Homo sapiens: one gene and its partners. The protein of the gene in region 4 purifies or fractionates together with the protein of the main gene of each other region. This does not show direct contact. Each region holds a gene or a part of one and is shown on either strand. Other genes may lie near its edges.

Region 1 (3,971 bases), on a different chromosome or scaffold from region 4:
ATTATTATTGAAGAAAATCAACTACCAGAAACACTAAAACCAAATGATTAAAAGTGATTATCTCTGTGATCAGAACCATGTTTAGCCTCCTGTTCAATTAGATTTTTAAAACTATGTATTTATTTTTTATTTAAAAATAATGCAGTATAAATTAATAATTGTCTTACAATTTTGAACAAATGTTACTGAATTTATAATTACTATTTTGTCATTGCATATTTTCATTTATGAATATTAAAAATAAACACTATTATGTAAAGACCTAAAATTTTGGTGAAAAAGTGATTTTCATATTTGAAATATAGTGGGAGATAGAATAATAGAAAATGTAAAGAAAGACTATTAGTAAAATTGATGATTTTTCTTTTTTTCACTGTTTAAGAAATTTTTATTAAAGCAAGAATTTTATAATCCAAACCATGTTTCCTTGCTCAGTTATCAATTCTGTTACTTAAAACAGAATGGACATTTTGAGCTATTCCACAGTAAAGAATTAAAAAATTAAAGGAATGCTTTAAATTTTTGTACTTTGCTGAAAATTCTTTTCCCAGGGTCTACAAAACATTAACTGGTTTTTGTATTTTACGATTTTTTGTTTTTAAATCAAAATTAAGTAATCTTTTTTTTGTTTTTAAATCAATAAGTAATCTAGGACTAGCATTATATTTGCTAGACCTTGCATTTGCTCGGTACATAAGGTTCAAAGTTTCCTTTCCATTTTTTATTTTAGATTTTGCATTTTTTATTTTAGATTTTGCAATTTTTTTTCCCATAGTTTCTCGATGTTTAGATATTTTTCTTCGGTGAAGCACAAATTTCTTTTCGTGGTCTCTGATCAATTTTAAACAGTTGGAACACCGGTAGCACTGTTAACTGCTTTCTGGGTAGCCTCTTTAGCTTGGTGGGCTTGTAGTACAGCTACAGCTTCATCAACCTTAGAACGGAGTGACTCTGGAGACTCGAGCATATAAAGAAGTTCTGAATTATCAATCTCCAACAACATGCCAGTGATTTTCCCAGCAAGAGTAGGGTGCATGGCTTGAATAAGAGGAAAGAGCCGTTCACCTAACATTTGCTTTTGCTTTTGAGGAGGGGCAGATGCCAACCTGGAGGCAGTCAAAGTTTCCTGACCTTGTACATGAACAGCAAGCTGTTGCATTGTAACTTGTGGCTGTGCATTACGATGTTGCTGAGGATTGCGAACTCCCGCAGCATATTTATACCGTGGAACCGTGCGCACAGCAGGGGTAGCTGCAGCAGCAGCAGCAGCTGCAGGACGTGGACCCACTGTCTGTGTTGATGTGTTAGCAACACGCTGCGTTGACATGACTCGTGGAACCTGTGAAGAAGCTGGTCTCATAGTACTAAATGGTACTCTAGGAGCACCTGGGCGGATAGCACTGGGCTTATTTTGGAATGGATGAGGTCTGGCACCCTGAGCAGTCCAGCGAGGACTTGGTCTTAGTCGAGCAATTTGGCTAGGAGGATAGTATGCAGCATGGTTCTGAGTCTGTGGGACAGCTGTCATGAAGTAACCTGAAGGAGGTGCTCGCTGGTTGGGCACAGCTCGTACACTTGCCATTCTCTGCATATACTCGTTAGTGAGGTAAGCCTGGCGCTCTTCTTTGCGCTGAGCTAAAGCTACATACAATGGCTTTGTGGCCACAATTCTACCGTTCATTTCTGTAACTGCTTTAGTGGCTTCTTCTGGGGAGGAGAAACATACAAAACCAAACCCTTTGCTGCGACCACCTTCCATCATAACCTTTGCACTAGTGATTGTACCAAATGGAGAAAACGCTTTCCGGAGACGTTCATCATCAATACCATCATCAAGATTTTTCACATAAAGATTAACAACCTGGTATCTGGTGATCCTATCTTGCTTCATCTGTTCAAATGTGCGCTTAAGTTCCGTCTGCCGTTCCACTTTTTTCTGAGCTCGACCAACGTAAATTTGTTTTCCATTGAGCTCCTTTCCATTCATCTCATCTACAGCTTTCTGTGCATCTTCATGCCTTTCAAAGCTTACAAATCCAAATCCTTTGGATTTTCCACTTTCATCGGTCATTACTTTCACACTTAAGGCGGGCCCGAACTTGCCAAAGAGATCCTTAAGGCGCTCATCATCCATGTCTTCTCCAAAATTCTTGATGTAAACATTGGGGAACTCTTTTGCCCTAGCTCCAAGTTCAGCTTCTCGTTCTTTACGAGACTTAAATTGTCCAACAAATACTTTGCGACCATTTAGGAGCATTCCGTTCATTTTTTTAATAGCTCTTTCAGCTGCTTCGTGTGTCTCAAAGTGTACAAATCCATAACCCTTGGAACCATTTTCATCACAAACCACGTTACACGAAAGGATGTTACCAAAAGCAGAAACTGTATCATACAGTGCTTTATTATTAATGGACTTATCCAGATTTTTAACGAATATGTTGCCCACTCCACTTTTTCGAAGTGATGGATCACGCTGAGACCACATGATGCGTACTGGCTTGCCCTTTATAACATCAAAATTCATGGTGTCCAGAGCATGCTCCGCGTCCTTCGTATGCTGGAAGTTCACATACGCGTAGTTGGAGGAGCCGCTGGTGATCAAGTCCCTGCAGATCCGGATGGAGAGGATGGGCCCTGCCGGGCTGAACTTCTCGTAGAGCATCGCCTCAGTCACGTCGGGGTGGAGGTCCCCCACGTAGAGCGAGGCCGTTGGGTAGCTGGGGGTGCTGGGGTTCATTCTCGGCACGGCTGCCCGCAGGCACACAAGCCGCGACCTTTCCGTTACAGGAGTAGAGCGCGTGCCGGGGCCGGGGGCGTAGCCGGAGGGAGGGGAGCGGGGGCAAGCGCAGAGGGACAAAAATCAGCCGAAATCGAAAACTACTCAACGGCCGCAGAACGGGGTCGATCCGCTGCCGCTGGCTGCCGGCTGCCGGCGGGGAGCCAGGGTAGCGGTGTCGGGTCCGGGCAGCAGGAAGGCCTTGGTCTCTTAGTTCCTTCTTGGAGCTGCTGCGGGGCCGCTGGCGGGCGGCTCGGGCTCAGCTGCTTCACCGGGTTATTTTGTAAAAGAGCATTAATGATTTTTCTAAAATGATTTTTATAATCCAAATTTAAAATGCCTGGGAAAAAAATAAATGAAAGAATTTTTTTCTCCTTTCTCCTTTAGTATGTTTTTATATATGTTCTACTTTACACAAATATATTTTTATAAAATATTTTCTACTTTTTACCTCGTCTCTACTAAAATTACAAAAAATTAGCTGGGCTTGATGTGCTCACCTGTAATCCCAGCTACTCGGGAGGCCTAGGCACGAGAATCGCTTGAACCCGGGAGGTGGAGGTTGCAGTGAGCAGAGATCGCGCCACTGCCCTCTAGTCTGGGTGACAGAGCGAGACTATCTCAAACAAACAAACAAACAAACAAAAAACCCCGAAAAACCGACTTTTTATATTATATAACAATATAAAACATAATAAATATGTAATTTTATTTTTCATTTATTTATTTTTATTTTACTTATTTATTTTTGAGACGGAGTTTTGCTCTGTCACCCAGGCTGGAGTGCAGTGGTGCGATCTCGGCTCACTGCAACCTCCACCTCCCAGGTTCAAGCGATTCTCCTGCCTCAGCTTCTAAAGTAGCTGGGATTACAGGCACCCACCACCAAGCCTGGCTAATTTTTTGTATTTTTAGTAGAGACGGGGTTTCACCATCTTGGCCAGGCTGATCTTGAACTCCTGACCTCGTGATCCACCCACCTCGGCCTCCCAAAGTGCTGGGATTACAGGCGTAAGCCACCGTGCCCGACCAATAAATATGTAATGTTAATATAGTATTATATGATATAGTCTTTTGAGGTCAGGTTGGGATTCATTATTAAGTATACGTTTTATGATTATAAGTACACAATCTTGTGACCTAATATAGCTACACATCTAAGTAAGTGATGATCTGAAATAATTCTATTTAAGAA
Region 2 (3,500 bases), on a different chromosome or scaffold from region 4:
AACACAAACTTCAAAAAGAAATCAGAAATTAACTGATGAATTCTGGTGATATTTTATTTAGAAAAAGATAATCACTGATTTTAAGATCTTAATTTTTCTTTCTTGTAAATGCTACACTAATTAGACGTAAGATAGTATTAGATAATAAAAGTATTTACACATTGAATACAAAATAAATATAAAGTAACTGAAAAACAAATCAGGTTTCCATTGACTTATTTTGTTTTCCCACTGTCCATCCTCTGTTTCATTTTTCTTTGCCTTTTGTAAATCCGTTTCTTTCTTGCTTTCAAATCAACTTTTGGCTCTGGTTTTACCCACTGTATTTCTATTGGTTTCTCCTCAGCTGGTGTTACAAAAACATCTGCAGTGGGATCATGTGGAAGAAGAGTCTTCGGCTCTTTCTTTCTCAGTTTTTGCACATCTTTCACTTGCTGTTTCTCTCTGTATTTTGCAGCTGTGATGGATCTTATGACACGCCGATGCTAAAAAAAAAAAAAAAAGATTAGATGCTTTTGAAATAAAAATAAACATTTTATATAAGGCAAAGACTTTCAGTTATGAACCATATATCCTTTCAGCCAGTGTCATGAAAAAAGGGAGTAATTTCCAAGTTTCTATGCAGCAAAAACCAAATTCAGTTTCACAGGTAATAAAACAGCAATTACTTCACAGAATCATTTTGGCCAAAGGGTTCTGGTACATTGAAGACTACTGAATGACACAACCGCTTACCATGTTTGGTGACTGGTAGTGAGGATTTTCATATAAAGTTGGTCCTCCAAAACTTCCCTGGAAAATCTTTATGAGATTTAAGACAAAACGAGGTCCTATTTCTACAAGAGCAGCATCTTCTTCTATGATCTTTAATAAAAAGGAAACATTTCATTTTGGTTTGGTTACGTTATTCCCAAAAGGTATACTGGCTATAACCTCATTATAAATGTGCCTGAAATAATTGATAATCCATAAAATCAAGGTGGGGGTGAAACTTGGTAAATGGCAAATCATCAATATTTTCTGAAATCTATTAGTACTTATAGGAAGTTGTCATGGAAAAATGTTTTTTCAGTGAGTTCTTTTAAAATTGAGTAATTAGATTTTGGTTCACATCTTGCTTGTCACAATGCATATATCCTTGAAAAACTGGTTAAACAGGATTTTAAAACAGTAACCACTATTAACAAAATGTATTAAAGCACATTATGGGGGAACTCTTGAAACTTAAATCAATCCCTAAATTGTTTTTATAAATCTAATTCAAGTTAGATTAAAAGGATATGTAGTCAAATTTATTTAATAGCTACTGATTATGGAATTAAAAGGCAACTTCCGAACAACAAATATTTATGTTATCTATTAGTTCAGGCATGTCTACCCTCAGAGGTTAGGATGATGTGTTCAACTCACATGCCAGGTATCCAATATAAAATATGCAGAAAAGAGCTCAGTTTATGTCATATACTGTCTAAAATTTTGTTCTTGCTGTTCTCTTCCACCTCTTCATCTTTCTGCACTTATCGTGCCAAACTCCTGCTTCAAGATTTCTAGAGTCACCTCCTCTTTTCTCCTGAATGAGTCACTGTGTGACTCATCATCTAACCGCTGCCATTGAATGCCTTCTAGAGCAATTACATTTTGCTAGGTCTTAACCTTTGAGGTGCTTTGAGAGAGAAACTTCTAAGCTTTGAGAGAGAAACTTCTATTTTACTGTATCCTTTACAGCACTTTCTACAAATTAGGAACCCAAGTATCTCATGGATCTTCAAGTTATTCCCTTTCTATAAAGTTAAATATATAATGGCTTATTAGGAAATCCATACTCTGTATCAACTAACAGTCATGAATAGAAGTAGGTAGAGCTCACTTAAGATATAAGACAGTACATAGTTACTTGCAGCAATCTCTTTAGGGAAAAGGAAGCTATTTAAAACAAAAGAATTATTTGCATTTTTTGTGTATGCAAACCCTGTATATCCTTATCTAAAAGTTTAACTAAAAATTGACCAGGCACAGTGGCTCACAACTGCAATCCCACCTACTCAAGATGCTGAGGAGGAATGATTTGAGGCCAGGAGGTTCAAGGCCAACCTAGGCAACACTGCGACACTCTATCTCTAAAAAAAAAAATTAGGCCGGGTGTAGTGGCTCACGCCTGGAATCCCAGCACTTTGGGAGGCCAAGGCGGGCAGATGGCCTGAGGTCAGGAGTTTGAGACCAGCCTGGCCAACATGGCGAAACCCCGTCTCTACTAAAACTACAAAAATTAGCCAGGCGTGATGATGGGTGCTTGTAATCCCAGCTACTCAGGAGACTGAGGGAGCAGAAGCTTGAACCCGGGAGGTGGAGGTTGCAGTGAGCCAAGATTGTGCCACTGCAGTCCAGCCTGGGCAACAAGAGCGAGACTCTGTCTCAAAACATAAATAAATAAACTCAATTAAAAAAAAGGTATAATTAAAAATCAAGTAAAGCTTACCTGAAAGTTCCGAAACCATATCCTATTATCCAAAATGGTGAAAGTAAACACGTGGTCCACAAATGGTTGGCTTTTGGGATGATACCGTGGTGTACTAAAGATCTAGTTAAAAAAGTGTATGTTAGTTCCTTATTCCAAGATATATCATGTATATTTTGGATAGCTAATTTTAAAGATATTTACCTGAATTAAGAGTTCTTTTAACAAAGCATAATGTGGTAATTCATCAAAAGCCTATAAAAATAAGGTAAGCATATTATTTAACAGTAGACTGCCTTGTTTAAAACTGTTTGCTCATTTGTTTCTATAACTTGGCTATAACCTCATTATAAATGTACCTGAAAGAATTGATAATCCATAAAACCAAGGTGGGGGTGAAACTAAATTGAATAACACAACTATATCTACTAAAAACAACCATGCCAGATAAGAAAATTAGACCTCATACACTGAATGAGAAACTTACAGGGTCAAAAGACAAAAGGGGCCGAGAACCTTTCAAACAGTTTCCAGTCATCTTCAGTTCAGCGAGGGTATGAACTAGAAAAATTACAACAAAAACAAAAATAGTTGTAACTTTTGCACAACTATTTCAAAAGATTACTTTTAATTTCCTCATCTAAAAAAATTTATTGAGTCAACTTACTATTTTGAACAAGGAATTTAGCAGATGGTCCGTGAGGTGAATTTGAAAGCCTGAAAGATATGGAGTAAGCTTTTTCAACTAATTAGCAAATGTAGTCAATGCTTACCACCTATTCACCATAAATAATATGCTTATAATATTTATACATTTAATTTTCTTTAAAGGTATCAAGTTTCGTGAAATCAAAAGTTTGCTTCATTCTCAACCCTTAACATGAAACACTAGGAGTCTATAACATAAAAGGTACAAAGAACAAATCCACTTAAATGAGTTTAACCAAAATCTTAATACATTCTCTTACCACATATAGAGATCCTGTTTTTTCTTAGCTTCAAAATAGATGCATTTATTACAGTTCTTCATTTCACAAACCTAAAG
Region 3 (2,699 bases), on a different chromosome or scaffold from region 4:
AGTTCTATATTGCCAAACATCATTCTCTTTTTGCTATATAAATCTTCTATTTCTAATTATTGACCAAATGCTTTACTGAAACTCCGCTTCTGGCCTTTGTTTTGGGATCTGTTACTTTTGTTGCCACCTCCTGATCGCTGTCCTCTCGGGCCTCTACTGCCTTCCCGCTGTCCTCTGAATCTTCTGTTTCCGTCCCGCTGTCCCCTGAAGCCTCGACTGCCTTCCCGCTGTCCCCTGAAGCCTCCATATCCTTCCCGTGGTCCTTCCAGTTCTGGTTGCTCTGTGGCCACAGAGAGCTGCCAGCGTCGTGAATCATGCCATTTCTCCTGTTGAGAGAATGTTTTGTTTTTGTGTGCTTTAATTAGTATTCAATTTTTAAAAAGCATGAGAAAAACAAAATATTTGCCACTTCTTCAAAGAAAAGGTGATAACATAAGTGCTTAACAAGTCACTGGTCAAAAATAACACTGGCCACCCATCATGGTCCAAAAGCCAGTGTCCCTGAAGTGTGGGAAAACACAGTTTCATTATGAGAAATAGCCCTCATCACTACTTCATTTATTAAGTTATTAAACCATTTATTCAACTCAATTGCTACAGGGTATCTACAGCCAAAGGTAATAAAACAAATATATTAAGCACACATTTCTCACAGTATTGAATAAAGATGTAACAATTTTAAATGTCTATGAAAACCTGTAGGCTGGACGTGGTGGCTCATGCCTGTAATTCCAGCACTTTGGGAGGTGGGTGGATCACCCGCGGTCAGGAGTTCGAGACCAGCCTGGCCAACATGGCGAAACCCCCGTCTCTACTAAAAATACAAAAAATTAGCTGGGGGTAGTGATGGGCCTATAATCCCAGCTACTTGGGAAGCTGAGGCAAGAGAATCGCTTGAACCCGGGAGGCGGAGGTAGCAGTGAACCGAGATTGCACCACTGCACTCCAGCCTGGGCGACAGAGCGAGACTCTGTCTGAAAACACACACACACATGCACACACACACACACACACACAAAATCTATATACCATATATAAGTGTTAAAGGGTGGGGAGAGCTGGATATCGTTCACAACTTTGTATAAAGGAAATATAGAAACCAGGTGGGTTCAACTACAAAAATATCAGAATTAAAAAGTTAGGGGGGAATATTCCAAAATTTAATTATCGATTATCTCTTACTAAAGGAACCAGAACTATTGTTTCCCAATCTATTATTCTCTATTTTCATAATTAACATTCTACAATTTAGGTATGTTAACTTTAAAATCTAAGGGAAAAGAATACCTGTATTTCTGTTACTGATGCGGTAGGTACATCAAAGCAAACACCCTAGAAATCAAAGCAAATGGAAGTTAATCCAACCAACGCACATGAAAAATACTCCCTTTAAAAGACCACGTATTCTTTAAAAAAAAGAAAACAAAAAACATAAAGCAAAAAAACCACCAGGTATAATTTTAGATGAACTTTAGACCAAAGCTAATACATTATAGCTGCCAAAAGTACACTGCAGAAAGACAAGGAACATTGAAAAAAAGAACCCCAAATGATTTAGAACTTTCTAACTATAGACAGAGTCTTAGCTATTACACTGTGCTAACCCCCTAGTGGCTATTAGCTACATTTTATTGCTGAGCAAACAGGCTTGGAAAGGTTAGCTGACTTGTCTAAGGCCCCACAGCTATTAAATGGCACAAGTATTTAAAATCTAGTCTGTATGGCTCTAAAACCTATAGTCTAAACTATATACTGCCTTCCATCAGAAAAGCAATGCCAGCTATTCAGAATGACCTAATTAAAAGCAGAAAAACAAGTGATCTTCTATTGTTGATTTTCTGGTTTTTCTTAATTCAGCCTTCTGTAAGAGTATGAAAAAAATAATACAGGACACCATCTTTTTTTTTTCCCTCTTAAGATAGGGTCTTGCTCTACTGCCTAGGCTGGAGTGCAGTGGTGCAATTAACAACTCACTGTAACTTTGAATTCCTACAGGTGCATGCCACTACATCTGGCTTTTTTTTTTTTTTTTTTTTGGTAGAGACAGGGTCTCACTACATTACCCAGGCTGGTCTCAAGAATTATCTTCCCAGCTCAGCCTCCCAAAATACTGAGATTACAGGTGTGAGCCATGGCACCTAGCCAGGACACCATCTTTAATATTAAGTGCCATCCTCTCCAATCAAGGAAATCGTCTAAAAATATAGTCAAACTATGTGTTAACTAATACAGGCACTCCTCTCCCTGCTGTCTTCAACTGCAATATTTTATAAGGAACACCCCTTTCACCCCAAAATTTACCCAATCATAACATAGGTATCATCACCTACTGGTGGATTTTGCCATTCATGGGAATCTTCGCTTACATATTTACGAAGTAGAGTATAATCCCAGGCATTCACTGGGTATAGAGGTAATTAGAAAACAGTTTTTGCCTTTGAGTGTTCTTGAGGCTCTCCATTAGCAAACACAGCAAGGTAAAAGTTTACCTGCATAAACATGTGTCCTAAAGACTCTGAAGTACAGATAAAGACGCCCCTAACATTGCCTGGTAAGATTTAAGGCTAAGCAAAGTCATAAAAGCTACTTTGGAGGAAAAGATTTATATATATATAAAATTTTTTTTTTAAGACGGAGTTTCACTCTTGTTGCCCAAGCTGGAGTGTAATGGCGCGATCTCGGCTCACCGCAACCTCTGC
Region 4 (3,500 bases):
ACCTAGAGTGACCCTGTAGCCCTGCAGTGACCCTATGGCCCTGCAATTCCACTCCTAGGTGTCTACCCAAGAGAAGCAAAAGCATCGGCCACACAAAGGCTGGAGCGCGGACATTCGAGGCAGTATTATTCACGACAGCCCCCAACTGGCAACCACCCGAACGGACAAAGAAAGTGTGGAGAGCCTCTGCAGCGGCTTGACTCTGTAATAAAAACGGGTGCAGCGCTGAGGTGCTGCAGGACAGACCTCCAAACATGATGCAAAATCAAAGATGCCAAACAACCATGTACTGTATGATTCCAGCAACACGAAAGGCCCACAGAAGAAACTTACCGAGACAGAAGTGGATGAGTGTTAGGGGCCGGGACTGATGATGAAAAGAGTGAGGGAATTCTGGGGGGCGATGAAAACAACTGAAAGCTGCGCTGTGGTGCAGCTGTACCACTCTAAGTTTACTCAAACCCACAGAACCATACACCTAGAGCAGAGGAATTGTGTGGGAGGGAAACTGTACTTCAGTTAAGCTGCTTTTTTTTTTTTTTTAAAGCTGACACCACAGATCAAAGGGTTAGATCACCGTTGAGGGAAAGCACCCACGACATGAAGAAAAACTAAGTGAGGCCCCACCTCACACAACACGCAAATGAAGAACAGCAAACGGCAGCCGACTTGTAGGGAGGCCTCCCTGTGCCAGGGCCACCCAGGACACTGCCAGGCCCACTGTGGCCCCCTGAAGAGTCGCCACGACCCTCTGAGATAGGCAGTGCCGTTATCCCGACTGTATATAAAAGGAGACTGAGGCCAGAGGAGGAAGTAACCGTGCAGGGACAAGCGACACCCACAGCTGCCTCTTGAGCCAGCATCAGGCAATGCAGGAGGCACTCTGTGACCATGGGTGGAGACTGGTCCTAAACAAGACCCCGAGCACAAATCACAGGGCAAAGGATGTCAGGACCTTGCCTCATAAAGGACGAAGGATTCGGCCTAACAAAGGGCAGCACTGGCGAAAGCAAGGCACCAACAGAGAAGCGCTGTATGTGAACAAAACCAAGACAGGCGCTGTCCAGAGGACACAGGAGCCCTTGCAAGCCTGGAGGATGAAGGCAGGGTGTGCGTGAGGGGAATCCCAGGTGACTCAGGTCTCAGCTCGCACTTGGGGAGCTGAAACCCAAGGCTCAGCCAGGGCCTTCCCTCTCCCGACAGCTCCCTGCAGACAGGCACCAACCACACACAGGGTGTGGGGAAAACGGCAGCGCGGAGGCTCACGGAGCAGGCACTGCAGATGCAGGAGGGCCAAGGTGTGCAGGAGCTCTCAATGCAGAGGTGGGGATGGAGTCACTGTCACCCCTGCACACGTGCACACGATGCTCCCCAGCCCTGTGCACTGGGGGCGCTGGCAGCAGCCAACACCCTAGCTGCAACAAGCACACGCAGCGCCCAGACCCTGAGTCCTAAACACACCCAGAAGGAACCAGGGCGCCCTGCAGGAGCAGCTGTCCCACCTAGAGCCACCAGGAGCAGCGCCCAGACCCTGAGTCTCTTTTTTTTTTTTTGAGACAGAGTCTCACTCTTGTCACGTAGGCTGGAGTGCAGTGGCGCAATCTCAGCTCACCACAACCTCCACCTCCCGGGTTCCAGCAATTCTCCTGCCTCAGCCTCCCGAGTAGCTGGGATTACAGGCATTTGCCGCCACAACCGGCTAACTTTTCGTATTTTTAGTAGAGATGGGGTTTCACCATGTTGGCCAAGCTGGTTTTGAACTCCTGACCTCAGGTGATCCACCTGCCTCGGCCTCCCAAAGTGTTGGGATTACAGGTGTGAGCCACCGCGCCCGGCCCAGACCCTGAGTCTTAAACACACCCATAAGGAGCCAGGAGCGGCTGTCCCAGAGCCGCCGGGTGCTGGGAGCATCTGGGTGCCAGAAAGCAAGCAAGGGTGCAGAAACTGTCAGGCACATCATAAGGGCAGGAGCCCTGGCAGGGCAGCATATTAAAAGGGGACGGCAATGGACACAGCCGGACACACCCGTGGACAAACAGGCGAGCGGTGAGCACGGAGGAGGGAAAACTCTTCCGTTCAAGGACGCCGGCCGCGGATCAGAATTTGACAGCAGACAGACACAGCTGGCTATTAAGACTAAGGGGAGAAGGTGGAGTTTTCTAGTCTCAGAGTCTCCCCCCAGCAAGACGTATCAGCCGGGGAGATCCCTTTGACAAGGATGGAGCGAGCGCCTGAGGCAAGGGAGGAAAACAGCGCTGCACCAGGACAGGGACGCCTACTGGGGAGGACTCTGCGTCTCCGGGTCTGGGCAGGACGTGGCAGACCCCGCAGGTGTGTACAAACAGGCAGTCTGAAGTCATCCCCGTCCTGATATCTAGGAGGGCAGGCGGCATCTGGCAGAGGTTGACCCCTGAGCCACAGCCGTGGCCCCCCAAAAGGGGAAGGAGCGGAGATTTACTCCCAGCCTAAATTATTCACAAGGAAAGGGAATGTGGCTCTTTAACAAGCCATCGCTTTATGAAGCAAGGTTAACAATTTCACTTGATTCAGTGGAATATTATAAACTCTCTGGGGCCCATTTGAGGACTTCTACTTCAGGCGCAAGGTGACGATTCAGCACTTTTCACATTATTTAGAGAATAAAATTAACCCTCGCAGGCCCGGGCTGCCGCCTGTCCCCGCTGGATCTGGCCGGCTCAGCGCTTTCCCATATATAATTACAAGCTGCTATCCATCATGCGGGCGCCGCGGCGCGGACACACGGAAAGGCAGCAGTAAGCACTTCCACTAATAGAAGCAGGACCTAAATATCACTTTGATATTTTCATTTAAATCGAAACATTTTACAATAATCAGCCATGGCCTCCATGGGGATCCTGCCACTGCCCCCACAGGGTCTGGGGCTGCCCCAGCCAGGCCCTACCTCCCCGGAGGGGATTGCCTGCCAGGTTTCAGGTTGGGGAGCCCGGCCTGGCCAACCCTTGGCCCGGCAGCAGGGGCTGCAGGCTGACTCCTCCTGGGAAGTGGGTGTGAGGACTGAGGATGAGGGAGAGGATGCTTGGGAAGGGCCCGGCCCACCACAGAACGCTGTGCACAGGAAGGAGTGCGTGGCCCAGCTTCTACAGGACCCCACAGGTGAACCCAGCAAGGGAGGGGCAGGAGAGCCGCCAGAGCTTCGGGCCCGGTGTCCTTGCGGGTGGGCTGAGAAAGGGTTCCTGGGGTGCCTGGTGTTCTCGGCTTCACGGGGGCTGCAGACCCTGAGGCAGCGCCAACACAAGTGTGAGGTCCAGGTGGCAGTGAGCCGTGCTGCAGGCCCCGGGGCTCCCTCCCAAGATGCCAGGGACAAGGAGCATCTCCAGGTCCCCCAGCTCTGGCCCCTCCCCAGCCTGAGCCAGGAGGCCCCCAGCCTCAGCCACAAGCCTTAGGCCAGGTGCAGGAGCCCCCAGGGCGGGGAGAGAAACAGGCGTGAGAGGCTGGGGTAGAGGGGGCTTGTACCCGGG

The links.
Region 1: the proteins of ZC3H3 (region 4) and PABPC3 purify together in Homo sapiens (affinity purification with mass spectrometry; 3 studies listed by BioGRID and IntAct, with this or other methods). This does not show direct contact.
Region 2: the proteins of ZC3H3 (region 4) and BRIX1 purify together in Homo sapiens (affinity purification with mass spectrometry; 3 studies listed by BioGRID and IntAct, with this or other methods). This does not show direct contact.
Region 3: the proteins of ZC3H3 (region 4) and DDX21 purify together in Homo sapiens (affinity purification with mass spectrometry; 3 studies listed by BioGRID and IntAct, with this or other methods). This does not show direct contact.

What each region holds. Positions count from the first base shown.
Region 1 is NC_000013.11:25,094,965-25,098,935, reverse strand, and holds the start of PABPC3 (polyadenylate-binding protein 3), read right to left. Parts: upstream 2,801-3,971; 5' UTR 2,738-2,800; coding exon 842-2,737; 3' UTR 1-841. UniProt on the Homo sapiens protein: Binds the poly(A) tail of mRNA. May be involved in cytoplasmic regulatory processes of mRNA metabolism. Binds poly(A) with a slightly lower affinity as compared to PABPC1.
Region 2 is NC_000005.10:34,922,211-34,925,710, reverse strand, and holds part of BRIX1 (ribosome biogenesis protein BRX1 homolog), read right to left. Parts: intron 3,495-3,500; coding exon 3,424-3,494; intron 3,173-3,423; coding exon 3,123-3,172; intron 3,017-3,122; coding exon 2,943-3,016; intron 2,711-2,942; coding exon 2,660-2,710; intron 2,579-2,659; coding exon 2,477-2,578; intron 865-2,476; coding exon 736-864; intron 486-735; coding exon 216-485; 3' UTR 1-215. UniProt on the Homo sapiens protein: Required for biogenesis of the 60S ribosomal subunit.
Region 3 is NC_000010.11:68,980,170-68,982,868, reverse strand, and holds part of DDX21 (nucleolar RNA helicase 2), read right to left. Parts: intron 1,333-2,699; coding exon 1,288-1,332; intron 327-1,287; coding exon 57-326; 3' UTR 1-56.
Region 4 is NC_000008.11:143,461,448-143,464,947, forward strand, and holds part of ZC3H3 (zinc finger CCCH domain-containing protein 3), read right to left. Parts: intron 1-3,500. UniProt on the Homo sapiens protein: Required for the export of polyadenylated mRNAs from the nucleus. Enhances ACVR1B-induced SMAD-dependent transcription. Binds to single-stranded DNA but not to double-stranded DNA in vitro. Involved in RNA cleavage.